3 linked regions of the Homo sapiens genome follow. The protein of the gene in region 2 interacts with the protein of the main gene of each other region in a pairwise test. Each region holds a gene or a part of one and is shown on either strand. Other genes may lie near its edges. The genes, in order: ZNF79, FGF12 and RP9.

The links.
Region 1: the proteins of FGF12 (region 2) and ZNF79 interact in binary tests that used the Homo sapiens proteins (3 or more experiments, as listed by UniProt).
Region 3: the proteins of FGF12 (region 2) and RP9 interact in binary tests that used the Homo sapiens proteins (3 or more experiments, as listed by UniProt).

What each region holds. Positions count from the first base shown.
Region 1 is NC_000009.12:127,419,558-127,427,381, forward strand, and holds the start of ZNF79 (zinc finger protein 79), read left to right. Parts: upstream 1-4,824; 5' UTR 4,825-5,230; coding exon 5,231-5,246; exon of another isoform or gene 5,247-5,353; intron 5,354-7,824. UniProt on the Homo sapiens protein: May be involved in transcriptional regulation.
Region 2 is NC_000003.12:192,716,206-192,726,495, reverse strand, and holds part of FGF12 (fibroblast growth factor 12), read left to right. Parts: intron 1-10,290. UniProt on the Homo sapiens protein: Involved in nervous system development and function. Involved in the positive regulation of voltage-gated sodium channel activity. Promotes neuronal excitability by elevating the voltage dependence of neuronal sodium channel SCN8A fast inactivation.
Region 3 is NC_000007.14:33,097,064-33,106,461, reverse strand, and holds part of RP9 (retinitis pigmentosa 9 protein), read left to right. Parts: intron 1-5,560; exon of another isoform or gene 5,561-5,705; coding exon of another isoform or gene 5,706-5,755; intron 5,756-5,900; coding exon 5,901-5,931; intron 5,932-7,025; coding exon 7,026-7,155; intron 7,156-9,099; coding exon 9,100-9,191; intron 9,192-9,398. UniProt on the Homo sapiens protein: Is thought to be a target protein for the PIM1 kinase. May play some roles in B-cell proliferation in association with PIM1.

The sequences.
Region 1 (7,824 bases), on a different chromosome or scaffold from region 2:
GATGGTGCCACAAATAGCTGACCAGGAGATAACAGGATGATGGCAGCCATTGGTGGACTCTGGTCATCAGGAAATTGAGGCCCAATTGTTGCCTTAGCAACTATGGCTGGGGCAGGGAAAGGCTGGGGTTGAAATTACAAATTCGTCTGACATGCTGAAAAGAAGGGCCAGCAACACAAGGGTAGGGTCCTCCTTATCTCTGAGGCCCCACCCCTCAGAGCTGAGGCAAGGACGGAGCCTTTTTCTTAGCTACAGACATCACACACTAGGCCGGGGACAGTGGCTGTGCCTTCCTGATCACTCAGGAAAAAAGGAATGCCAAGCTTGGGTCTAGGGGTGGTGGCATGGGAGGAGTGTTGAAACAGGCACTTGGAGAACCCGTGCCTGCCCTGGGGGAACATCATTCATTCACTCTTTCAGCATCTGACTACCTACTGTGTGTCAGGCAGTTGTAGACACTGGTGATATGGTGGTGGCAAAGAATACAGCACCTGCTCTAATGGGAATTAGCTTCTGAAGAGAGGCAGACAATAAGAAGTAAAGAAACAAACAAAAGAATTAAACAGGTCACACCTGTCAGCCCAGTGCTTTGGGAGTATTTTTTTTTTTTTAATTAGCCAGGTCTGGCCTGGCGTGGTGGCTCACGCCTATAATCCCAGCACTTTGGGAGGCCGAGGTGGGCAGATCACCTGAGGTCAGGAGTTCGAGACCAGCCTAGCCAACATGGTAAAACCCCGTCTCTACTAAAAATACAAAAACTAGCCGGGTATGGTGGTGCGTGTCTGTAATCCCAGCTACTTGGGAGGCTGAGACAGGAAAATCGCTTGAACCCGGGAGGCGGAGATTGCAGTGAGCCGAGATCCCGCCACTGCACTCCAGCCTAGGCATCAGAGTGAGACTCCATCTCAAAAAAAAAAAAAAATATATATATATATATACACACACACACACACACACATATATATACATATATACACATATATATCTATATATACACATATGTGTGTGTGTGTGTGTGTGTGTATGTATAGGCCAGGTACAGTAGTTTATGCCTGTAATCCCAGCATTTTGGGAGGCCAAGGCGGGCCGATGACCTGAGGTCGGGAGTTCAAGACCAGCCTGACCAACATGGAGAAACTCTGTCTCTACTAAAAGTACAAAAAATTAGCCTGGCATGGTGGCGCATGCCTGTAATCCCAGCTACTTGGGAGGATGAGGCAGGAGAATCGCTTGAACCCAGGAGGCGGAGGTTGTGGCGAGCCAAGATCGTGCCATTGTGCTCCAGCCTGGGCAACAAGAGCGAAACTCTGTCTAAAAAATAAATAAATAAATAAATAATAAAATTAGCCAGGTGTGGTGGTGCAGACCTGGAATCCCAGCTACTCAGAAGGCTGAGGTGGGAGGACTGCTTAAGCTCAGAAGTCCAAGGTTGCAGTGAGCTATATGAGTGGTGTGCCACTGCACTCCAGCCTGGGTGACAGAGCAAGACACTGTGTCTAAATTAAGAAAAAAAAAAAAGTAAACCCAATCTATGTGAACTTATTCAACAGTGGAAAATGCTAAAAGGAAATAAAAAGTCACCATGGGAGCAGCAAGGGCTGTTACTGTACAGGGTACTAAGTGAGGGCCCCTCCTGAGACGTACGCTCAGACATCATGCATGAGAAGCGGCCAGCTGTGTTGAGTGCTGCTGGTCATGGCCCCGCAAGTGCAAAGGTTGTGTGGCAGGACGGAGGCTGGTGTGACCTCTGAAGCCATTAAGAGCCAGTGTGGCTCTGAGCAAAAGGAGAGGCAGGGAGCCGCAGCATGTGCTTGTGGAAGTAAGTAGCTGTCTTGTGGCCTTTCCTATGGCTCGTTTATTTTCTTTCTTTTTTTTTTTGTTTTTTTGTTTTTTTGAGACGGAGTCTCACTTTGTCTCCCAGTGAGCTCTCAGCTCACTGCAACCTCCACCTCCTGGGTTCAAGTGATTGTCCCACCTCAGCCTCCTGAGTAGCTGGGATTACAGGTGTGTGCCACCATGCCCAGCTATTTTTTTAATTTTTAGTCGAGACGGGGTTTCACCATGTTGGCCAGGCTGGTCTCAAACTCCTGACCTCAGGTGATGCACCTGCCTCAGCATTCCAAAGTGCTGGAATTACAGGCGTGAGCCACCACACCCGGCCTTGGCTCATTTTCTCCACAAAGCCATTTCCTCTGAGTCAGTGATTTTCAAACTTTATAGCGTATCAACTACAAGGATTGTCAAAACAAAGGCTGCTAAGCCCTGACCCCAGAATTTGTTTTATAGGTGTGGAGTGGGACCCCTGAATTTGCTTTTCTAACAACTTTTAAGGGGGATGCTGCTGCTGCTGGCCTGGGGATCCCACTTTGAGAACCACCACATTATTAAGGGGACAGGACACTGATTGCTTATGACAGCTGAGAGGCAAGACAAAGGAGAATCTCTTTTTTTTTTTTTTGAGATGGAGTCTTGCTTTGTCGCCCAGGCTGGAATACAGTGGTGCGATCTCGGCTCACTGCGACCTTTGCCTCCGGGTTCAAGTGATTCTCCTGCTCCAGCTCCCTGAGTAGCTGGGATTACAGGTGCGTGCCACCCCGCCCAGCTAATTTTTGTATTTTTAGTGGAGGCGGGGCTTCACCATGTTGGTCAGGCTGGTCTTGAACTCCTGACCTCGTGATCTGTCCACCTCGGCCTCCCAAAGTGCTGTGATTACAGGCGTGAGCCACTGCGACCAGGATGATCTTTCTAAGCAGTGTGTCTGTGCTTCAGGACACACAAGGGCCAAGTTAGGGCAGCCAGGGTCATGACCCTTTTGGCTGCTGTTGGAAGGGGAGGGGTGACACTTGCTCCTGGGTGCTCCCTTATCTCCACATACGCTATATCAGCGGGGTGGGGACAGCCTGAGGCTGGCCAGAGCTTTCTTGGGGGCCCTTCTCCCATCTTCCTTCTGCCACCTCAGGCCTCCTCAACACAGGAGGCCAGACAGAGGGGCAAGTTTGCCTCATTCTGGCCTCCTGGTCCCAGGGATATGAAACACTTCCTCTTCCCTAAGTGTCCTATCCATCCCAGTCTAGTTATGCTTCCTCTCCTCAAGGTAGCAAGATTTCTCTGACAAGAAACTTCTCTCTAGCCACTTGAGCCCAACGCCTCTTCTCAGGAGATGGGATTCAGGACTCTCAAGTGTGGGAGGAGTACATTAGCAACACTGGGAACATTTCCTGATCACGGATTCAATTCTGAAACGACCACGGCAGTGAGTCTAGAGTGAGGCCAGGTATCCCCCAGTGATCCAAAAAGCACTCTGGATGCAGCTTTCCTGAGAGCTGACAGGTCTGGGATACCTCTGCCAGCCTGACAGCCAGCTGGATCCTAGATTCCCGGTATCCATTCACTTCCATCTGGTTTTCTAATCCTGCTGTGGTCAGCAGAATACCACCCCCCAAAGATATACATGTCCTAATCCCCGGAACCTCTGAATATGTTAGGTTACATGACAAAAGGGAATAAAATTGCAAATGGAATTAAGGTTGCTAATCAGCTGGCCTTAACGATTCTCCTCAATTAGCTGGGTGAGCCCAGTGTTAACCATGAGGGTCCTTAAAAGTGGAAGAGGGCTGCGGAGGAGAGAGAACCATACAGAGGGCAGCAATGGACGGACTCTGGCTGAGGTTGCTACTTTGAAGTTGGAAGAAGGGGCTGCGAGTCAAGGATGCAGGCAGCCTCTGGAAGTTGGAAAAGGCAAGAAAAGATTCTCCCCTGGAACCTCCAGAAGGAATGCAGCACTGTCGACACCTTGATTTTAGCCCAGTGAGACCCACTTCAGACTTCTTACAAAACTGTAAGCCCCAAACTACAGCTGCCCAATATAGAGAAGGGCTAGCTCAAAGACATTTGTGAGTGTGGCTTCTCCGATGGAGCCAATCCCATTAAGATTCATAGGAAGACCCACAAAATTAAGAAACTTACACTGGCAAAAATGCCACCGGCTGTGATTGAAAGGGAAAGAGACAAGACAAAATGAAAAGGAGCCTTAGAATCCCCATACTCACTTATTTCCTGGGTAACCCAGTCCCCTCCCCTTAACGACAAAATGCCTATAAAAAGGAGCTGATCATCGAAAAATTGCTTAAGAAGTAATTTCCAAAGGGCTCGAGGGAAAGTCCATTGAAACATCCCCAGCCTGCAGCAGGGAAGCCCTTAAGGAACACAGGATTCAGGAATCTCCTCCCGCAGAAGTGCTGATCAAACACTGCCCCTGAAATGACTGAAGCAGTTCCCGCCGGCCGATAGGTTTTTATACTTTGAGGGTCCCAGGCCACCCACTCACGGCTGTCCTGTTCAGACTGAGGGACTTCTGATTTCCTTTAGTCTTCCCAAACTTTTAGTACGGCTCAAGAGGACCCTGAGAGTGGCTGGTGATTGCCCTGAGTGGAAGGCCAACGAGGGACAGGCGTACCGTGCGCAGAGAGCTGCGGAGAGGAAACCAAGCGCCTAGCGCCAGCGAAGATCGGCGCCCCTGTAAGCCCAGCATTCCCAGAATCCTTCGCGGCTAAATCTCTTCTTTTCCTCGAGGCTCCATTTCGTTGGATTCTGGTGGACTTTAAAGACGTGTGCAACAAAAAAGCACGATGGATAATAGATTCCGGGAGCAAGCACAGGCGGAAGCCTCTCTGGGAAGTACAATCCCTGAGCGTGTGTGTATCATAAACCGGGCTGCAGGAATGAAAAAGACTTTGGCCAGAAACAGAGCCCCGCGGCGACTTCTGGGAAATGGAGTCCGGTGTGGCCGCCGCGGGGCATGTGCGCATGACCGGAAGTGGCGCCAATCAGGCGCGTCCCTCTGGCGCTGGAGCCAGGACCTGGCGTTGGGCGGTACTTGGACAGCGGTTCTTGAGCTCTCGCGGTTGCCGGTAGATTGTTGCCAGTTGCCAGTTGCCAGTCGTTTTTCGGAAAGCTGGCAGCGGCTTTTTCACCGGGTTCTGCTTGAGGCCGAGCCAAAGAGTGGCTGTGACTCGGGAGACGGAGTGGAACACCCGGCTGGGCAGGCCCGGACAGCTCCCGCGACCCAGCACCGCAGGATCAGACCGTGCCTCTGCGGGGAGAGGCTGGAGAGGAAGAGTCCGGCCTGGGAGCCGTCAGAGCAGCCCTGCAGAACGGGGTGGGGGCTGCTGTAGATAGACCCTTACGCCCAGAGAACTGCTGGGAGGCTGTGGCGCGAGGCGGGACTCAAATGCTGGAGGAAGGAGGTGAGGAGTGGTAGAGGGAGCGATTGTCAAGAGATCGGCTGCTGCTTCGTTTGCCCACGACTGCCGCTGTGTGAGCCGAATCAGAACTCTCTTTATCTCTCCTACAGGTAGTTGGAGACAATCATTTTTTCTTTCTTTGCCCATGACACAGCCCCAGGAGATCCTGAGAACATGTGCCCCTACAGTCCTTTTTTGAGTAAAGAATTCGGGGGTCAAAAAAGTTTGAGGACCTCAGACTGCGTGATTTCTGAGTATTGTACCACGTACCCCAGTCTGCCCAGATGGACCAATGACAGTGGAGAGTAGGGAGAAGTGGGTTCCTGGGGACTCCTCTGTCACTTTTCTCCTTCTAGCCCTTCTCGAAGCAGCCAGGAATGCCTGGAAGCCCGGGAAAGTTTGGGGGCAGGCCAGCCCAGTAGGATTGTGAAGTTGTGGAGGACAGGGGAATTTGCAGTTAGAAGGCACAGGTTCTTGTGAAAGCTGTGAGGTACCAGCCAGGTCTCTTAACCTGTATTTCTCCATGGAAGAAAGGACAAAATAATGTTAACTACTTTGTTTACCTCTGAGAATTGTAATTCTCAAATGAAATAACACTTTTGAAAGCACCCTGAATGTGGTACAGAACAAATGTGTAAGCAGGCAACCTCTTTTAAGTCTTAACCACCAACACCTCTGCTGTTCACCCCTAGATCAACTGTATTTGGTCTTTTACTCTACAAGTGCAATTTTACATCCAGAATTTGGTGCTGTCCCCAAGATCAAGAGGTCCTTGTATTTGTTTTTTTTTGTTTGTTTTGTTTTGTTTTTGAGACAGAGTCTCGCTCTGTCGCCGAGGCTGGAGTGCAGTGGCGCAATCTCAGCTCACTGCAACCTCCGCCTCCCAGGTTCAAGCGATTCTCCTGCCTCAGCCTCCTGAGTAGCTGGGACTACAGGTGCCCGACACCAAGTCCAGCTAATTTTTGTATTTTTAGTAGAGACGGGGTTTCACCATGTTGGCCAAGCTGGCCTCAAACTCCTGACCTCAAGTGATCCACTGGCTTCGGCATCCCAAAGTGCTGGGATTACAGGCGTGAGCCACTGCTCCTGGCCAAGAGATCCTTATATTTGGTCTTGCACTTGAAGAGTAGAGAGTGCAATTTCACATCCAGTATTTTGTGTTATCTTCCCCAGACACCTGGGAAAGCAGAGCAGATGGGTCGTCATCTTCCCCATACTGCAAAACAGGAAAGGAAGTGCTGTCAGGTTAGATAACTCTCAGTAACAGAAGGTCTGTCCTAAGATCAGGATCCAGATCTATTTATTTATTTTATTCAGATATCATTCACATACCATAATATTCACCCTTTTAAAGTGAACAATTCAGTGGTTTTTAGTATTTTCACAAAGTCTTGCAACCATCACTATTTAATTCCAGAACATTTTTGTTATCTGAAGAAGAAACCCCATAGCCTGTAGCAGTGACTCCCCAGTCCCTCATTTCTCCACAAGTCACTGGCAACCACTAATCTGCTTTCTGTCACTATGGATTTGCCTAGGACATTTCAAATAAGTGGACTCATAATATGTGACTTTTTTTTTTTTTTTTTTTGAGACGGAGTTTTGCTCTTGTTGCCCAGGCTGGAGTGCGATGGTGCGATCTCAGCTCACCGCAACCTCCGCCTCCCGCGTTCAAGTGATTCTCCTGCCTCAGCCTCCCGAGTAGTTGGGATTACAGGCACCCGCCACCACACCCAGCTAATTTTTTGTATTTTTAGTAGACACAGGGTTTCACTGTGTTGGCCAGGCTGGTCTTGAACGCCTGACCTCAGGCAATCCACCTGCCAATATGTGACCTTTTGTGTCTCGCTTAGCACATCATTTTCAGGGTTCATCCAGGTTATAGCATGCGTCAGTACTTCATCCCTTTTTGTGGTAGAATGATATTCCATTGTATGGAGAGATCACATTTTGTGTATCCATTCTTCAGTGAATTTTTGTGTGTGTGTATGTTTGATTTCTCTTGGGCATATACTTAGAAGTGGAATTACTGCGTCATACAACCCTCTTTGACTTTCACAGGAACTGCTGAACTTTTTCCACTGTGGCGGCATCATTTTCTATTCTCAGCAGTGTATGAGGTTTCCAGTTTCCTTACATCCTCATCAACACTTGTTATTCTCCATCTTGTTTATTATAGTCATGTTAGTAGGTGTGATGTGTTCTCTCATTGTGGTTTTCATTTGCTTTTCCCCAATGACTAATGATGTTCAGTTTCATGTAGGGAGTGGCTATTTGTATCTCTTGCTTGGAGAAATATCTGTTCAAATCTTTTGCCCATTTAAGAATTTAGTAGGGCCAGGCACAGTGGCTCACACCTGTAATCCCAGCACTTTGGGAGGCCTAGGCAAGCAGATTACTTGAGGTCAGGAGTTCGAGACCAGCCTGGCCAACGTGGTGAAACCCCGTCTACTAAAAAAAAAAAAAAAAAAAGTTAGCCGGGCGTGGTGGTGCGTGCCTGTAATCCCAGCTACTTGGGAGGCTGAGGTAGGAGAATCGCTTGAACCTGGGAGGTGGAGGTTGCAGTGAGCCAAGATTGTGC
Region 2 (10,290 bases):
TGTAAAAATCAACTTCTGAATGGCATATTGAACACACATAAACACAACGACTATTCTAACCACAAGATTAGATATCTTTTGGATTTAACCCCATCTATGCAGGTCTGTTTCTCCTTCTCCTTAAAACGCCCACCAGGTTGTGAGAGCCTTGAGTGATATGGTGGTCAGATATCCAGGAGGCATACTGGATGTATTTAATTCTGGCGAAATCAGAAGAAATGATGTCAACTTTTATGAAACTATATTCATTACCCAGAACTCGGGAAGCTATATTTGAAACAAGATTTTATTTTTAAACCAGGAATGTCAGTCACTGTGGTAATGTACTTAGGATCAGGGAATGGTGGTGAGTTACCTATTTCTGGGCTGATTAATGAAACTGGAGTGTTGAATGATAGCAGTTCTATGTTCAATAAAGTGTTTTAAGTATTTAATTGGTAGATTTAAAGTATTTGAACCTAGGCAAGCATTTATAGTATAAAAAGAGCTGAATCAACATGGATTAAGACTAGCAGGCAATTTTCAGTTCAGGCAGATTATTCTTATGATACATTGATGGGCATCTCCACGTCTGACAATGATGTACACATATGAGAGAATCCATGTCTATAAGTATATTTGAGGCATATATTATTAACTCTATTATACTCCATTTTAAAATAAAAAGGCAGTCCTTAACATATAAAGGTTTGTAATATTCTAGCTGACTAAGTATTTCTGGGACATAAGGTTAACAACAGAAAAAGAATATCATTTTACTATGAAACAGTTTTTCTTGCTTAGATGACACCTGGTATTTGGTCACTAAATTTAGTTATTTGACAAAGGTTCTTGGTAACAGTTTTGCCTCCAATGTGTATACTAATTCCTGTTCAATCATAAAAAGAGGCTATATCTCTCGGCAGTAATCTTTTATTTTCCTTCGTTGCCCATAAAACATGCTACGTGTCACTTAGCATTCCAGGTGGTTTAATGATCATATTGCTAACAGTAGAGTTCTAGCTGTTCTTTCAGTCTTTTGAATTCAGAAAGGAGAAAGAATCTCAGAAATACATCCGAAAAGAATCAGTTCAGAAGTTCTATGTCAATCCAGACAGCAATGATATAGTGAATCACAGCACTGATCCAAAGGCAACGAAGACTTTTGCTGTAGGCCAACATTGTGGTCATTTTGCAGAGGTCCCATAATTGCCTCTGAAAAAAAAAAAAAACATGATGAAAGTCTTTATGCATGTTAGTTCCTGGACTTTCTTAATGAAGCTGTGTTAGCTGCTTGGCAATCAGATTAAAAATGGCTAATTACTTATACATTGGCCTCACTTTCTAAGTTGGTGCAAATGGCACAGCTAACGATGGTAGCTAACTTGAAATTTTTATTCCAGCCAAAAAGAGTGTATTAAGAGAAATGTGTATTTGTGCAATACTGTAATTGGTGCATCTTTCACATTTTATGCTGCCGTGTACAAACTTCTTCCCCCAACAGATTCAAATCTAATTCTAGGAAGACATTCTCAAATGTATGTATATATAATACTTTTCTAGTAGAAACTCTTTAAAGATAGAGTCATATTGCGTGACTCAGTTGAGGGTTCAAGAGTTCTCTATCCCATACCCAGATCTAATGGCCTGTTTAATCTTGAATCCCATCGCCAACACTTGACAACTTTCACATTACCTCTAGCATTTGACAGCCTTTCTTAGAGCATTTGTCCAGCATCCAGAAAGTTGAACTTCAGCTATTTACAAATAAGATCAATTTATTTTTGCTTCCTTATTTACAACTTTGCATCACTCCCTGTCATACAGGGTAAAGAAGAGAGGAAAATACATCAGTTGACCTGAGGTTCAATTCATGATCTAATTTCAGCGATTTTTGTGCACCATGTACTTAACATTGTCTCAAAGATTTGGGTTGGTACGCAGTCCGAGCAGCTCTGACGGAATTTGTGCCTTGCGTATCTTAAGGGCTTGAGATTCTTAAATGAGTTAAAATGTTTAGTATTTAGAGGAGTGGTTCACAAAGTTTGCTGCACACTAGAATCACCTGACATACTTTCTGAACATACTCATCCTGAGATGGCACCGCATACCAATGAAATTAGAATATTGGGGTGGAAGAAAAAAGCATATATGTTTCCTTTAGAGGTCCCTATGTACAGCAGTGTTTGGAAACCACTGATTTAGACTCTTGATAGTCAAAATGTGGTTTGCAGACAAATTTTTTAGAACTGCAGAATCTCCATATTTACTCCAGGTCTATTGAGTCAGAATTAGAATTTTGACAAAGTACCTAGGCAATTTGTATGCACATTAATGTTTGAGAAGCATGATTTGGAGTGAGGAAACAGGCTTTTTCCTTCCTTTCCTCCTTCCTTCCTTCCTTCTTTCCTTCCTTCCTTTCTTCCTTCCTTCCTTTCTTCCTTCCTTCTTTCCCTCTTCCCTCCCTTTCCCTTCCTCCCTTTCTCCCTCCCTTTTCCCTTCCTCCCTTTCTTCCTTCCCCCTCCCTCCCTTCCTCTCCTCCCCTCCCCTCCTTCCTCTCCTCCCCTCCCCTCCTTTCCTCTTCCCTCCTTTCTCCCCTATTCTCCCCTCCCCTTTCCTCTCCTCTCCTCTCCTCTCCTCTCTCTCTCTCTCTCACACACACACACACACTCTCACCTCCCACTGACCCCCACCTATATCACATTTTTCTTTGTCTAGGTAGATTTCCAGCCTCAAGCTGGCATACTACCTATAGAAACACCTGTAGAGCTTTTCAAATGTAAAGATGCTTAGGCCATACCCCTAATAATGTGAGTTTAATTAGTTCTGGGGTGGGATCTGGGCATAAGTAGTTTTAAATGGCTCCCAAGTGATGCTAATGGATGGCCAGAGTTAACCACTGATGTAGGGCATTACTGCTGGTGGTCCACAGACCAGCAGCATTTGCATCACCTGGGAGCTTGTTAGAAATGCAGAATCTCAGTCCCTACACCACATCTACCAAATCAAATCTGGATTTCAACAAAATCTAATGGTCATTTCTATGCACTTTAACATTTAAGAAGCACTGGTGTAGATCTCAGGGAACTGATTGCACCTGAGAATGAATGACACCACTCCAGGCACCTCAGTAGAGAAGATTTGATATTATCTGTCTAATCATTATGAAGGCTCATGGATATGTGATCATGTTCTAGGTCTTCTGGTTGTTTTTGGATACAACAAAAATGAAATGAAAAAGAAACTGCGTGATCTAACTCATAGTTAGATCAGAAAACAAACTTACTTTTAAATACCCTTGCTGCTCATCCTCCAATCACTTACTTTCAACCCCCAATTACCCTAAATATTTATTCTCTACATTCATTTTAAGCTCCTGACAAAGTCTGCTGTTAACTCATGGTAATGTGATGATATTTGACTACTTAAATCAAGGCACTTCTAAACAGAGTGAATATAGTTTTATCCTTTTCTATTGTCATACCTCTCTGTTCAACCCTTTTGAGATTCCTATGACCTAAGTACTCGTTTGTCCCTCACATACTGCGTTTCTTACAGTCAACATTGTAATTTTTGTGCTTTTTATTTAAACAAATATTTATTGAGCATCTGATATGTACCCAATGTGCTTATTTCTGAGAATGTGAAAGAAAACTAAGATGCAATCTCTGAACTTGACAATTTCACTCTTCTATCTTCACTAATATATTAACCTTCTCGTGGGCAAAATCTGAGCCTTTAACATTCCAGCAACCACCTAAGTGTCTATCTCAGGTAGAATATTTAAGTTTGCATAGTAGGGATTCGAATTATATGCGTTGGATAGCCTTAATTAGTTTTTTTAGGCCAACTTCATGGATCCAGAAGATTGTAAGTTGGGAGAAGTGTGGGAAACTTAGCTACCAGGAGGGCTCCCAGAAACATCAGTGTGATTCCAGAACATGGAAGGGAGTAATTTGACCCACTCTCTCAAGAGAGACCTGCACATGTATTTCCAAGGAAGATTCAATTCTTTGTTCTAGATTTCATACCAGCCATCAGAGTTCAGTCAGGGCCATGAACCAACACACTTAAGGTATAGAACAGTCATTTCTCTGAAGCCAGGATGATTTACTCTGCAGCAGAGAAAGGAAATGTCTATGCAATCATTAGTATATCAGAACTGGAAAGCGATTTTAAGAAGAGCCATTTTGTGGTTAAACAATAACAACAACAATAATAAAAGACTGAGCCAGTATAGTGAGATAAGTAAAACATAATTCAGTAAAATCATGATGTATAGTCACTGAGTGTAGGAAATACAGTTTCTTACTCCACCTGTCATGGTGTAAATTTGGACAAATCTTTTCCTCTTTGGGTCTCAAGATTCTTAAATATCAAAGGGGGTCCAGTTCATTTAATTTAAAATACCGAGTTGCCACATTGTTCCAGGCACATTATTAAATGTGGGGGACAGAGGTATAAATAGTTTATTGACTTGCCCTCTAAAAGCTTACAATGTAGGGATATATGAACAGGATCAAGAGCTGTTGATTTCTAGCATTTTATGTGTCTTCTCCATTCATCTTTCAGAGTTCTAGTAGGTTATCCGGGAGGCTAGAATATAAAGTCTTACAGTGATTAATGAGCTCCAAAGAGGCACTTAACATTCCACAGCAATAATTCCTGCCTTTTGTTTCCCCTTTGGTTTATTTAAACAAAATTATTGTGTGGGAGAACATTTGAACTCAAGCTATGTATCTACTATAAAAGCTATTCCACCTGACTAGCTACCTGCCTAACCTGTTTCTTGCTTTAGGTTATTATGAGGCTTGTTACCCTCAGTAATAGGTCTGGGGGAGGCCAACCTACTTGCCATTCCCTTATCCTTTTTCTTTTGTGCTTTTAAGTTTTTGAAGTACCAACCTTATTAGGTTTGGTGTTTTGTGCTACTGATTGACCAATAATGGTTTATTGCATCTCTTAATATTGGGTTTCCTGATTTGTCACATATTTACACCCATAAATAACGTTCGTGAAACACTTTGTACTTTTTCAAAAGGCTTTTAATATATACAATCTCCCTTAAAACCCTGTGATTTGGCATTTTAACTTTATTTTATAGATAACAAAACAAAGGATCATAAAGACTAAATGACTTAGGCAACTCATCTTACCTCTGTTTCTCTGCAAAATAAAAATTCTTATACCCATCCCAAGTGCTGTACCATAATATCATGATTATGAAATAAAACTCATGCTAATAAAGTATTTAGAACTCTTTAGAATTATAATCTGACTTTCATCATTTTTAGCTGTATCTCTCTTTACACTAGACTGTGAGATCCTGGATGGTAGAAATTGGTCCTCTGCCATTTTTGTAGTTTTAGCAGCAAGTATACTGCACGACACTCAATAAATCACCCTTCATTAACTCCCACAAAAACTTCACTTTACCAAAAGGGATTTCTTGTGTGCTTATTCTACAGTTTTAATAGTAACGTCTCCAACACCTGAATTTGTCTCTACATCTTATGGGTTTGGGGATGGAGATATATTGAGTCAAGTATTACACCTTGGATGGGTTTAAAACATAAACTGTGTAAATTCTGGCCACTAACAATGGTCTTAATCGGGGTACATCTCAGAACCACCAGACATCCTGTAATACCTGCAAGTCAGATATTTAAGAAACACTCAGGTGATGATGTATGTCCTCAATTATGAATCCATCGATAAGCTCCAAGATGGTTACTAGGAAACTATAACACATACATGTGTTCTTTATCAGGAGCACTATAGGACTTCTACTGCCTGGGCCTTGTCTTTTATTACCACCCTCTTTAGTGTTAAGAGAGTGTGTGTAGAAGAGAGATTTCATTTCTGTACTACAGACTTGGGATTGAAAATAGATATGCAAAATAGATGGCAAGAGTTTGAGGCTAAGATGACATGCCATTTTCCCCAGCATCATCTTCCTCATCTCCTTATTAGCATCCTTGCATGCAGAGCACGGTAGGATTTTTTAAGGATCTATGTCAATAGTTCTAATTTTAGCTTTCTCATCTCTCCAGTTACTTTTTGAAATAGTCTCTGTCTCCTTGTCTTTGGGAATGTGAGACTCCCACCCAGGGAGGCCGTGGTATTTAACTGCTGCGATGCTGCTGATGGCACCTAGGCAGAAGTCCCAAAGGACACCTGTTGCCCCTTCACAGATCTTTTCTTTTTTCTTTAGCGCATACTCTGCCTGGCTTTTTACCTGAAACAAGCCCCATTACTAATGATTGAAAAAGCACACATAATTGAAAGTGGGACTTTAAACTACGTGATAGAAGTAAAGGCATGCTGCCATTCTGTGGTTAGGTTTTTGTTTCTTTCTTGTTTGTGGATTGGCCATTAGCCTGAGAAGCAACCCAAAGGGACTAGACTGCAGAAAAAGAATCCAGAAACTTTCAGAGGCTGTTCAGAAGATAACTAAATGCACCAAAGAGTCCTTTACCAAGCAGGCAGGAAGAGGCAGCAATGCCAATCTCTCCCTACCTCATTCACTTCTACAATTATCACCCACGTGAAACAGGTTTTCCTCGAATCCTCCAGTACTGATAGCACTCTAACAGATTGAACAAACCTCAACACAGGTAATTTGGGAAATTTCTTTTCAGATACTTGGGAACTGAAAAATCTAGATATGCTTCCTGCTTCAAAATGTGTTGGGTTGTTTTTCTTGTTTTTCTTTTTTTTTTTTTTTTTTGCCCTTAGTCTCTTTCACATATTATAATAAATTGGGGTTAGATACTCTACAAACAAGACTATTATATAAGATTTATTATATGATCATTCTAATTGTTTAAATCTGGAAAATTTAAAATTAGACTATTTACACATTTTATCTAAAGGCTTTTCCTTCATTTCAAAACATGTTCAACATTTCTAGCACTATTTAAAATTGAATTTGGTTTACTTCTTTCTTCTGGGATTTAAAAGAGAAATATTTGCTATGTATCAAGATAAAGGTTTTCATGTAAATCACTCTTTATTTTCAAGCCTACAAATAACTTAACATGAGATGAAATGAGTACTTTTTTACTATGGGCTTTGATTTGCATCAGCATAAAAAACAAACGATTATGCAAATATAGCAAGACCCTCAATAACAATAACGTAAACATGAAGGAGACAACTAAAGCAATAGCACAGACCAATCAGTGCCAGTCTTTTAAAATGAGACCATTGGTTGATTGATTCAATAAGCAGTATTTCCTTAGAACCTGCTGTTTGTTAGCTGTTCTAAGGCTGAGCTTTTCTAACTGTAGTATGCACACTGGTGGAATTATGACATTGTATACTCTGGTGATACACTGAGGCATAAAATACACATGGTGCATGTTCCAATGAAATATAACTAATATTCTAATGTATTAATCTAACAGACTACTTAGATTATTCTAATCTAATCTATTAAATGCTAGAAGATCTGGGATCAGGTTCTCGTTCTTCTATTCCATGGATGAACCTCAGTGTACTAAACCTCTCTCTCTTTTTTTTTTTTAACTCGGTTTGCCCATTATTGATTTTTATTTTCTTGTTACAAAGAAATTGTTATTTTAAGCTTGTTTGTATTCTTTCTTGATCCTCTTTAGGCTTAACTTCTACAGAAAATAAACAGGGTGATCATAATTACCACATCAAATTTTAAGGACTCAGTGTGGGTTTGAGCTAGCTTTTTAATGCTGTGAATTGTGCAACTGAAGTTGTTGGATTTATAACTTTATTGAGGAATTAATTTGATTCTGAGTGAGAAAGCACTAAGAGGAAAAAAGTGCTACTTGGCTAAAGTTTGTATATGGCATGATTGTGACCACATAGGTAACAGGTTCATGTCTAAATTGATGGATGGCTGCAGTGGCCTTGTGGAAAAGACGCTGTCTTGGGGATCCGGAGACCTGGATTTGAATCCTAATTCCCGCCCCATCTTCAGTTTGAGCTCGTGGCTTTCTTTCTATGGCCTTGTTCTTCATCTGCAAAACAAGAGTGGATTAGAGGCAAGATTCTTTTCACTTCTGGGATTGAAAGAACCAGCATTTGTGAAGTGTTTATATAGGAACTACAGTGGATACATTCTGTTTAAAGATTTATGATCAGCTGCTTGTTCTCTCCTATCTCTTTTGGCGAACTTGATGGCATTTTTGCTTAGCAGATTGTACATTATGTTTTTATAACGTCTTTTCTTCACCCTCATATGTGTCCTCTTTACAATTAAGATGAGTTTATTTATACAACAGTCATATGTGAAGTTGATTTGGTGGATATGGTTTTCTTCTCTCTGCCAGCCCTAACCAGCACCTTCTTGCTAAAAAAAAAAAAAAAAAAAAAAAAGAAAGACTAACAGAATAATGACAAACAGTCCAAGGGCTGAGTGTTTTACTGACATTATTGATAGGAAGTCTGATTTTCTTTAGTTCTCAATCATTAGTAATATATTACTAAAAAACAATTGCACTCAATCCTTCATTGCCTTCAAACAATTTAAAAACCAATAACTATGTCTTCCAATGTTTGATTGGCTACTGATCATTTTAGATAGAAGAAGCATTTTCTACCACCAGATGAAAGCTATCCAAGGTCTAAGGGTTTCATGGTTAATAAACTGAATTTCTTGATTATGCGAAGAATAAAAGAAAGGGAAATATCTAACAGCCATTAACATGTTTATGAACATGGGTTATAATCAGAAGTGTTTATGACATAATGGTAATTATAAAAATAGTACATGTGGATATATGCACTAATTATAATGTAAAATTTGGTCATTGGCAAATAGTAGATTGTATTATGCAAAAAGTGACAATATTTGGATAATGACGATTGAATTATAAGTGGAGTTTTATCCTTTTTCACATATTTTATTACAGTTTTTTTCCCATAAAGCAGATTTTCTTTCTATGCTTTATGGGGAAAAAAACTGTAATAGGTGTTGGGTTCAGTTATAAACTTAAACAGATCCAGCTAAACTTAAAAAAGCTCTTTATTCTTCATGCTTTCATGCTTTATTCATGTCAAACATTGAAAGGACATTTGGAAAGATAACTGAGTCTTTTGAAATAATGCTTTTGCAGCTTTTACTATGTTTAGGCACTGTACTTTACATATATTGACTCACTTAAGCCTCATAAAAACCCAATGAGGCAGGCACTATTGTCATCCCTATTTCAGGGATGAGAAAAGTCAAGCATAGAGATGTTAAGTAATTTGCCCAGGTCACACAGCTAGTAAGTTGCAGACTGGCTTCAGAGTCTATGAGCTTAACCACTACTTAACACCCAAGGCATACTTTAGTATAGTCTTATAAGCCAATCAACCTTCCTTTGTTACTGAAAAACTAGTCCCACTGTGTATGTACAGATTTTATTAACCTTCAGAATACCCAATCTCTGCAGGCTTAGTCTCACTCAAGCCCTGGGCCAATAAGATACAGACTTGAGGAATCACTGGGCCTTCCTGCCTGTTATCAGGTGGGTTCAAGAAAGAACCCACTGCTCTTATGTGCCTTAAGTTGGCTTCCACCCCTAGGGGCTTAATTAAGCATTGGGTTGCAGCTTCTTTTTCTAACCCTCACATTGAATAACTGTTCTGTTTACCTGGGCAGCTCAGTGGTGTGGTAGAAAGATCGTAAGACTTGAAATCAAACACACAACTAACAACTTTTTAGTCTCTGTAACTTGGGTAAGATATATTTCTGTATCCTTGCTTCCTAATTTGTACAATGACGCTCTTTCTAGGTTAATGAGACAAACGAGGAAAATATATATAAAGAACCAAGCTTAAAATTAGTACTTAATAATTACAGCTGCTACTGTTGTTATTCTTGTTGTTAGCATTTGACCCTTAGGCTTACTACTTCCTCTGCTTCTGTATGGGGCTGGATTCTTTCCTTAAAATCCCTAAGATTCCTCTTCATCTTACCTAGTTTTATTTTGCTCATTTTTATCTGTTTGGAACCAGAGAATGCCATGCAGCTGTGGTATGCAGTTTAAAACAATGTAGTTAAGATATACTCGTTTTAAATTATGCAATAAAAACTGAGTGGCAGTGACATCAATTGATTCCTATACTGATTTTTTAAATCATAGTTTTACTATTTTTTTCCCATTATCTGGCTTACAATGAAGTCTAATTTCTTCAGAAGAAAGAACCTGACTATTTTAACAGGGATGTTGACGTTGTTGGCTGGGTCCAGGAAACATTGCATTGTTTATGTCAGAATCGTAAGGACAACTTTCTGACCAGTTTTCCAACTTAAGTGTGTACAAAAACACAGATCACTGGGCCCCA
Region 3 (9,398 bases), on a different chromosome or scaffold from region 2:
GCTCACGCCTATAATCCCAGCATTTTGGGAGGTAGAGGTGGGAAGATCGCTTGAGGCCAGAAGTTCTAGACCAGCCTGGGCAGCATTTATAGACCTTATCTCTGCAAGAAAGAAGGAAAAAAGAAATTAACCAGGCATGGTGGTACATGCCTGTGGTTCCAGCTACTTGGGAGGCTGAAGTGGGAAGATCTGCTTGAGCCTGGGAGGTTGAGGCTGCAGTAAGCCATGGCTGCACTCCAGGACTCCAGCCTGGGCAACAGAGTGATATCCTGTCTCAAAAACAAACAAACAAAAAAAAAACAGCAATATAACTATGAATTATTACTCACTTTGAGCCAGGTAGTGTACTCTGATTTATTTTGCTTTCTATACTATTGTTAACTTTTAAGTAGTTAATAAGAGCCTTTGTTTTTCACTTACTTAATTTTCTACTGCTGTTTTTCCCCCAATGTCTCCAAAATCTGAGTACCATAAAGGTGAAAAGGTATCTTTCCTTACCTATCATAGGAGTCACAGCAGATACTCCTATAACAAAAAATAGGTCAACAAGAAAAAAGCATAACAAATGTATTTAATCAAAGTTTTATGTGACATGGGAACGTTGACAAAGGAAGACCCAGAGACCCAGAGGAAACTATTTTTATGCTTAGTTTGGATGAAGAATGTATAGCAGTGTAGAAATATGATTAGACAAAAAAGGGTATAATACAGTGGTCATAGGGAAAATCCAGCAAGCCCTGTCTATTCAGATTTTTCAGGCCTCTCTGTGTACGATTACTTCCTCCCAGATATGGGGCAGGACCCTTTCTGGAATGAGGGGTCCTGATCTATCAAACAAGGTAGGTCAGCTCATGTTTTTATGGCCACCTCTGACACAGAAAGGCAAGGAAATGTTAGGGTAATATTTGTAGGAGTTTATTATTATTATTTTAAATATTTTTTTAAAAGTTCCACTGAGATTTTATCTTCTTTAAAAAAAAAATTAAAGTTATTTGTAGGGCTTCTGGCTTGCTTTGTGGGAGACTTGTTCTAGTTTTTATGGCCCACTTGTGGAAAAGAGGAATTCTGGCCTCTCTGACTGCTTTGGGGAAGAAAGAAGGGCAGGAGACAGGAGGGCAAGAGAAGGTCAGAGAGCAACTGTCTTCTGAGGCCTTCTCTAATCTCATTTAGTTCAAAGTACTCAGCATGCCAAAGCACCATACTTTGGGGTATCATTTTCTGAGCCCCAATAGTACTTTTTCCACACATAACTACATATCAGGTAGTCAGTTCATTTTTTACCTAGACTCTTCAATCTGTTGTCCTTCAGTACACTGGTTACTTTTTAGACCTGGTCCAGCAGTGGTCCTAGGGCATCCTTTCCCACTCTCCTATCTTGCATCTCATTCCTGGATTCCATGTCTTCCTCTTTATAAGTTTACTCTCACATTTTACCAAAGCCAATTCTGCAACTTCCTATGAAAGAGTGCATTGGAGGTAAAGTTTTTGACACCTTGCATATCTGAAGATGTCTTTATTCTATCCTAAAACTTGGTACATAATTTGACTAGGTATAAAATTACAGGTCAAAAATCATTTTGGGGCTGGGCATGCTGGCTCACACCTGTAATCCCAACACTTTGGGAGGCCAAGGCAGGAGAATCATTTGAAGCCAAGAGTTCAAGACCAGCCTGGGCAACAATGTGAGACCCTGTCTCTACAAAAAATTTAAAAATTAGCCAGGCACAATGATATGGACCTGTAGTCCCAGCTACTCCAGAGGCTGAGGCAGGAGGAAAATAGTAACAACAATTTTCACTCAGTTTTGGCGATAGTACATCACTATCTTCTAGCTTCCAAAACTGCTAAGGAGTTTGATGCCATTCTGAGTCCCTTTCTTTTATAAGTTACCTGTTCAAGTTCACCTCACCCTTAAACGTTAAGAAACTATTCTTTATTGCTGCCATCCTGAAGTTTCATGATAATGTTAGTCTTTTCCAATTGACTTTTTTTTTTTTAACTTTTATTTTAGGTTTAGGGGTACCTGTGTAGGTTTGTTATACAGGTAAACTCATGTCATGGGGATTTGTTGTACAGATTATTTCATCACCCAGGTACAAAGCCTAGTACCCAAGAGTTATTTTTTCTGATGCTCACCCTCCGCCTGCCCTCCACCCTCAAGTGGGCCCCAGTGTGTGTTGTTCCCCAGTTTGTGCAGTTGACTCTTTTTTTCTTGACATGTCATGAATGCATTAACTACATATATAAATTTATGTCTTATTTCCTCTCCCCAATTTTGTTTTTTCCTTCTGTTGATTTTCTGTTGCTCTATCTCTTCTGTCTTTGTATTTTCATTGTACTTTGTAGATGTATCTTTTTCTCTACTAAACATATTTGTTATATTTCTAAATCAAAAAGCTTTTTCTCATTCTGCAAGTTGTTTTTTATATTATCCTGTTCTTGTTTCATAAGTGAAATATCTTCACTCATCTATGAGGATACTCACTCGTTTTTCTTTTTTGTTGTCTTTTGTTCCCTACATTGCCTCTATTTCTTGTTTGCTTTTTATTTTGATTGCTGTCTTACATTTAGTAATTTTTTTTTCTCTAATATCTGGGTATTCTTGAATCTCAACCATATTTTGTTTTGTTTTGTGTTTTTTAGAGACAAGCTCTCGTTCTGTCACCCAGGCTGGAGCACAGTGGCACGATTATAACTCACTACAGCCTCGACTTCCTGGGCTCAAGTGATCCCCCCTGAATCAGCCTACAGAGTAGCTGGGACTGCAGGTGCACACCATGACACCTAGCTAGTTTTTTTACACTTTTTTTTTTAGAGATGGAATCTTACTATGTTGCCCAGGCTGGTCGCGAACTCCTGGCTTCAAGGAATCCTCTCACTTAAGCCTCCCAAAGTGCTGGGATTACAGGCATGAGCCGCTGCTCTGGCCTCAACTCATTTAAGAGTAGGCGCTATACAGCTCTTGTCAAGGGCAGCTGTGTGTGGGAGAGAAAAAAGAGAGAAGGTGTTGTTTGTTGATCAGATAGCTTCATGATAGGGCGCTCATGCTGCAGGGTACCCTTTTTATCAAGAGACTTCCAAATGTCAGTAGTTGGAGATTTTTTTCTGGGGCTCCTAAGTTCCTCTAGAGAAGGGTCTTGAGTCCTCTGCCTGGGGGCCAGGGATCTCTGCCTGGCTGCCAGTGTTGCTGAATTGGAGAGGCTAACCCTGCAGCCTCCTTCAAGTGTTGGGCAGGCAGCCTCCTGGCTATAGGAAGGAAGCCTCATCTTCTGAAAAGTGTTACTTCTTCCACCCCAGGAAATCCATTGCTATTTCCACTTTCCCAAATTTGTTGAAAACTTCCTCTGATGTTGCCTCCTTTTGGGATATCTTTATGGCCTTTTTATTTTTTCACTGTCATTTTTAAAGCATCTGGGGAAGGAGATAGATAAGCATGTTGGTCAGTTGGCCATGTTAAATGGGAAGCCCCACAGTGCTCTTTTATAAATTGAATTCAAATCTTTTCATCCCTGATGTGATGGAGTCTCCTGAGTCTCCACCACAGTTTTCCCTCGGTGACCCTGCCTGCCAGGCCCCTGAGGGCATCCGAGGCTTCCACCTGCTCCAACACTCTCTGTCACTTAATAGCTCCTGGGCTGCCAGGCATAACAGAGTGGACCTTCTGGGTGTATGTGGCAGTTTCACCTCTGCCACGCAGCCCCTTGGATGCAGCTGCAGGAACAATTGTGTGGAATGGAGTACACTTGCATTAGGGACTCTTCTCAAAGAAAACCCATCTCAACAGTCAACAGAAAGAGTAATTTGAAACACTTAACAAAAGATTTCTTACTCTGTACACACTTGAGAAGACAGCGTGTCTCAGACATAACTGGTCTTCTTCCTACTCAGAGAAAGTTAGTACAGTCTGAATGACTAAGTAAGGCTTTTCAGATGGCACAAAATAATGCATCTCAATCAACTTTTTTTTATCTTGAGAATTAACTGCAGCTGGACACGGTGGATCATGTATACAATCCCAGTACTTTGGGAGGCCAAGACAGGAGGATTGCTTGAACCCAGGAGTTCAAGGCTGCAGTGAGCTGTGATCACGCCACTGCACTCCAGCTTGGGTGACAGTGACTGCAAAGATAAATGCATACCTCTTAACTGTCACACTGTAGAACCTAAACTGTGCGTGAACATACTTCAGTTTTCTAATCTGTATTTAGTAGTTAAATACTACTTTCAGAAATATATTTTTGAGTATACTACATTAATGAATTGTTCAGCCCCGGGAAACAACATGAACCACCCTTCTTTAAACTTGTGAAACCACTTGTAAAATGGACTTTGGGAATGCCATTGCTGATAATATTATATTTCCAAATGTGCAATTGCATCACACTCATTTTCATCTTGGCAAGAACAGTTACTTTTTTTTGAGAATTTGGATCTCAATTCGATTGGCCATATATTTTTTGTATAATGCTTGTGGCTCAAAAGGATTCATTTATTGGATTTTTGGATTTATAGACTTTACTGTCAAGCTCCTTCTAGTCTCTATGCATAAGGTATAGCATTAATGTTTCTAATGAATGGCTACAGATAAACTATCATCTTCACAAGTTGTGCAGATTTCCATTGTTTTTGCTCCATTAGGCCTATGTCATGCCACAGCTTTTTGTTAGAAATATTTTAAGCACCTACTTTGGGAAAACACTGTACCACACTTACAAAGCTAATCCTGTTAATACACAGTTGTTTACTATTTAATCTTGAGGGAACAGATCTGGGATTAGTAGTATTTCTCATCCATTGTCCATCAAGTTGCTTTCTCCCACATCTTATAGAAGGGGAGAATGAATTTTTTTTTTTTTTTTTAAGACAGAGTCTCACTCTGTCTCCCAGGCTGGAGTGCAATGGTGCGATCTCAGCTCACTGCAACTTCTGCCTCCCAGGTTCAAGCAATTCTTCTGCCTCAGCCTCCTGAGTAGCTGGGATTACAGGCACCCGCCACCACGCCCAGCTAATTTTTGTATTTTTAGTAGAGACGGGGTTTCACCATGTTGGCCAAGCTAGTCTCGAATTCCTGACCTCAAGTGATCTGCCCGCCTCAGCCTCCCAAAGTGCTGGGATTACAGGCGCGAGCCACCACGCCTGGCCAAATGAAAATTTTTTCACTTTTCCCTTTGTCTATTCTTGACTCCCTTTTCCAATATTCATTGTCTTCTAAAGGGTCCCTTAAACTATGCATAAGACGAGAGTCCGAATGAAGAAAACATTAAATCATTAAGTGTTTCTCTATGTTGCAGCCATTCTGAAGTATTAAAATAAGAGAGCCAGGTGTCATGGTGCCATGGTACACAACTGTAGTCCCAGCTACTCAGGAGGCTGAGGTGGGAGGATTGCTTGAGGCCAGGGGTTTGAGACCAGCCTAGGCAACACGACAAGACCCTGTCTCAAAAAAAAAAAAAATACTTCCCTAAAGGTTTAAAGGGTCAAGGGACAGACCTGAGCTAAAAATATTTGCATATTACTCTTTTGGGAGGAGGTACAAATTGCTTTAGGAGCCTGAGAGTTGCTCTTTGAGTGCACAAACACCTCGCCTTCAGAATTTCCTTCCCATCTTGCTGCCTGTCCCATCTGGAGACTTGCGTGCTCAGCATTCTGGGTCTCCTCTGGGTTCAGTCCCTGGATGGAAATAAGGAAGGCCTGGCCAGTCTTAGATGGCAGGTGCCGCTCAGCACAGGGAGGAGAAGCATTCTGCTCTTCTCAGGTGATTGCTTGTCTGCAAACCAGTGATAAAAGCTTATTGTTGCTAAAATCTCTGATTAAAAATCCTATAGCCCCTTTTTTGCAGTAACTTGATGTGTTATGTTTACATTAACATGGTTGATAAGGTTTTGTTTTTTGTTTTCCAGTTACGAAAAACCTCCTCCTGGGCTTATCAAGGTTAGTGTGAAGTTTGTACTCTTGGTTATTCCACAAGACATACTTGTAGACTCAGTAACTTGTTATGAAAAATAATTGCATGATGTTAAATCTCCTTTTACCAAAAGCCTGTTTCTTTTCCTGCAGATGAATGAGGGGTCATAATTTTTAGTTTTGTCACAAGCCTCTGCCTTTGCAGAAATTTCATCAGCCATGTTTCCCTTCCCTGAAGAACCAGTGCAGGCCCACGTGGATTCCTTGGCCATGCCCCTCTTCTCTCTTGCTGGGGATGGCATCTCTAAGCTCCTTTTCCTTGTCGGCCTCACCCGGCTCAGCCCCTCGGTCCATCCTCTGCTGGTTTCTTGAGCTCAGCAGCTCAGAGAGCAGTAAACTCTGAGGAGATCTGACAGCTATCCAGTCCCGCTCCCTGGTACAGGCATCCCTCCTGCAGCTCCCTGGCCAAGGTGCCAGGGTGTGTGTGCACGAGGGAGACTTAGAGTGGCAGGCCACGGCCAAGAAAACTTGCTGTTTCATAACTCTCAGCGAAGAAATATTCTTTAAAAACATGAGTCTATTGTAAATTTAATATTCATAGAAACTTGAAAAAAATCCAAAAGTTTGAAAACACATTAATTGTAAATGCAGTTATTGAGTGGTAAAAATGTACATCAGAGATATAGCATGTGTGTGACTGTAAAACATGACAGGGCCTTCAGGGTATAATAAACTATTCTAGCATAACAGGCCATTTCTATTATTCCAGGAAGCCTGGTTTACTTTAATTCTATATTTTGAGGTAGTGAAACTTTTTTTTTTTAATCTCAGAATCTTATTTGGAGCTCCCCAGTCATTGCTATATAAGGACAGATTTTTCTGCTTCACCAGTAACTTTTCTCTAAGAACAGCTACATTGTTTTTGGTATAGTTCTTCTGGTACATTTGTTTCCTGTTTTTTCAATCAGGTGTAACTTGTCTTTTTTTCTAGTTTTGAGGGGTAACTAAGATGATGTTGGCACCGGAAGCCCAGGAAAAAGCCAGGCAAGGGTGGCTCCAAGGGGAGCAGGAGAGAATCCCAGCGCTCTTGCCATGCTGTTTATACCTGTTCCCTTTTTTAGGAAGATGAGACTAAGCCAGAAGATTGCATACCAGATGTACCAGGCAATGAACACGCCAGGGAATTTCTGGCTCATGCACCAACTAAAGGACTTTGGATGCCACTGGGGAAAGAAGTCAAAGTTATGCAGTGTGAGTGTGGGAGAGTTTCCCTAATCCATGCAACTTACATGCCTCAATTTACAAAGAGTGTTTACTTCTTTTATTTAACTTGTTCTCATCACAGCCCTCTTACAGCCAAGGCACGTTCTCCATCTTCTAGATAAGGAAGCATCCACCCCACCCCCCACCACCGTGCCATGTGAAGAAGAAAGAGGGCTGTCATCTTAAGCCAGGAAGAAAGCTCTCACCACAAACCCACCTTGCTGGGACCCTGATCTCAGATTTCCAACCTACAGAATGAATGAGAAAACCAGTTTCTGTTGTTTAGGCCACCCAGAATACGGCATTTTGTTATGTCAGCCCGAGCTGACTAAGACACCATCTTTCTGCAGGTCCCCTTAGCCTCTCTCCCGTGTTGGATCACCCATTTTCCTGTGTCTTGAGTCTTCTTTATTATCATATTCTCTCCTTATGGTGTAACAAATCCTATGGCTGTTACCTTCAAAATGGGTTTATAGAAGATAAAAATGTTAAGACCTTTACTTTTCTGGAATCGTCTTTAACAGATTTTTAACTACCAGGATATTGAATTCTAATTTAAAAATCAGTTTCCTTGAGAATTTTGATGGGAATGCTTCATTGCCTTGATTATTTGTTAAAAGCAAAGACAACGTGCCTCAGAGTTCAGTATCTATCGGTTTTTCTTCTTTGGGTGGGTTATATTTTCCCAGAGAAGGCTCCCACGTGGAGGGAAAGCCATACTATGAGTGTTCTGGGAGCCGAGTGGAGGGAGTCTGGAAATGTGTCCATCTGCTTTTCATTCATTCGTGTGACCCTTTGTGGCTATTGCAGCAGCTTCCTTCAGACCTACCTGATGTCTCCCTGGTCTCCCTGGCCAGAGACCCTCTGTTTTACCTTTTCCACACATTAAACAACCTTCTACCAGGGTCAGGAAAACAGGGTCTCACTCTGTCACCCGGGCTGGAGTGCAGTGGTGTGATCACAACTTACTGCAGCCTCAACCTCCCAGAATCAGGTGATCTCACATCAGCCTCTGAGATAGCTGGGACTACAGGCATGCGCCACCAGGCTTAGCTAATTTTTTTGTACTTTTGTAGAGATAGGGTTTCACCATGTTGCCTAAGCTAGTCTCGAACTCCTGGCCTCAAGCGATCTACCCGCCTCTGCCTCCCAAAGTGCTAGGATTACAGGTAGGAGCCACTGTGCCCAGCCACCATTAATATTCTAAGAGAACTTGTGATTTTATTTACTTAAAAGTGAGAGTTTTGAACAGACTCAACCTGAGAAAGAAGCTTTTATAGTGTCTAAAATAGTAAATGAGAAGCAGAGATACTTTATGAAAACATTTACTCTGAAAAATATACTGAAACACACTTTAAAAAAAATGTACCTTTTGGGCCGGGCGTGGTGGCTCACGCCTGTAATCCCAGCACTTTGGGAGGCTGAGGCGGGCGGATCACCTGAGGTCAGGAGTTGAAGACCAGCCTGGGCAACATGGCAAAACCCCATCTCTGCTAAAAATACAAAAATTAGCTGGGTGTGGTGGTACGCACCTGTAATCCCAGCTACCCAGGAGGCTGAAATAGAAGAATATCTTGAACCCAGGAGGCAGAGGTTGCAGTGAGCTGAGATCACGCCACTGCACTCCAGCCTGAGCGACAGAGCAGGACTCCATCTCAAAAAAAAAAATTCACCTTTTGAAGTAATTCTCCATTGGATTGCTTCATAAATACTTGGTGATAGAATATTATTCCTAAAGGTATAAGACTAAAGGATGCTTGGGGAAGCAATTAGTTTACCTCTGTTTCTGGGATCTTACATGGCTTGTCCATAATTATATTTTGTTTTAGAATTAGAGTTTAATGAAGAAAAACTTGAATATATTCTGCTGATTCTTTATCTTGAGTAGGTGAAACTGTTATCTTACAGAAATATTTCTCTTTTCGTTTTTAGGTTGGCGTTGCAAACGCTATGGTCACCGAACGGGTGACAAAGAATGCCCTTTCTTTATCAAAGGCAACCAAAAGTTAGAGCAGTTCAGAGTGGTAAGTAAAGTCCAAGAGTGTCAATTTACATTTATCAGAGATAGTGAAAATCAGTGAAGCAGAAAGTCACCAGTGAACTTGAATGGTCACATAAAATACATTCCCAGAAGCCCTTTGACCAAAGTGTGTGCTGTTAACTACATGCTTATTAAATTACATTTGTATGACAAATTAGCTCTTTTACAAAAAAAAGGAATTCTTATTAAA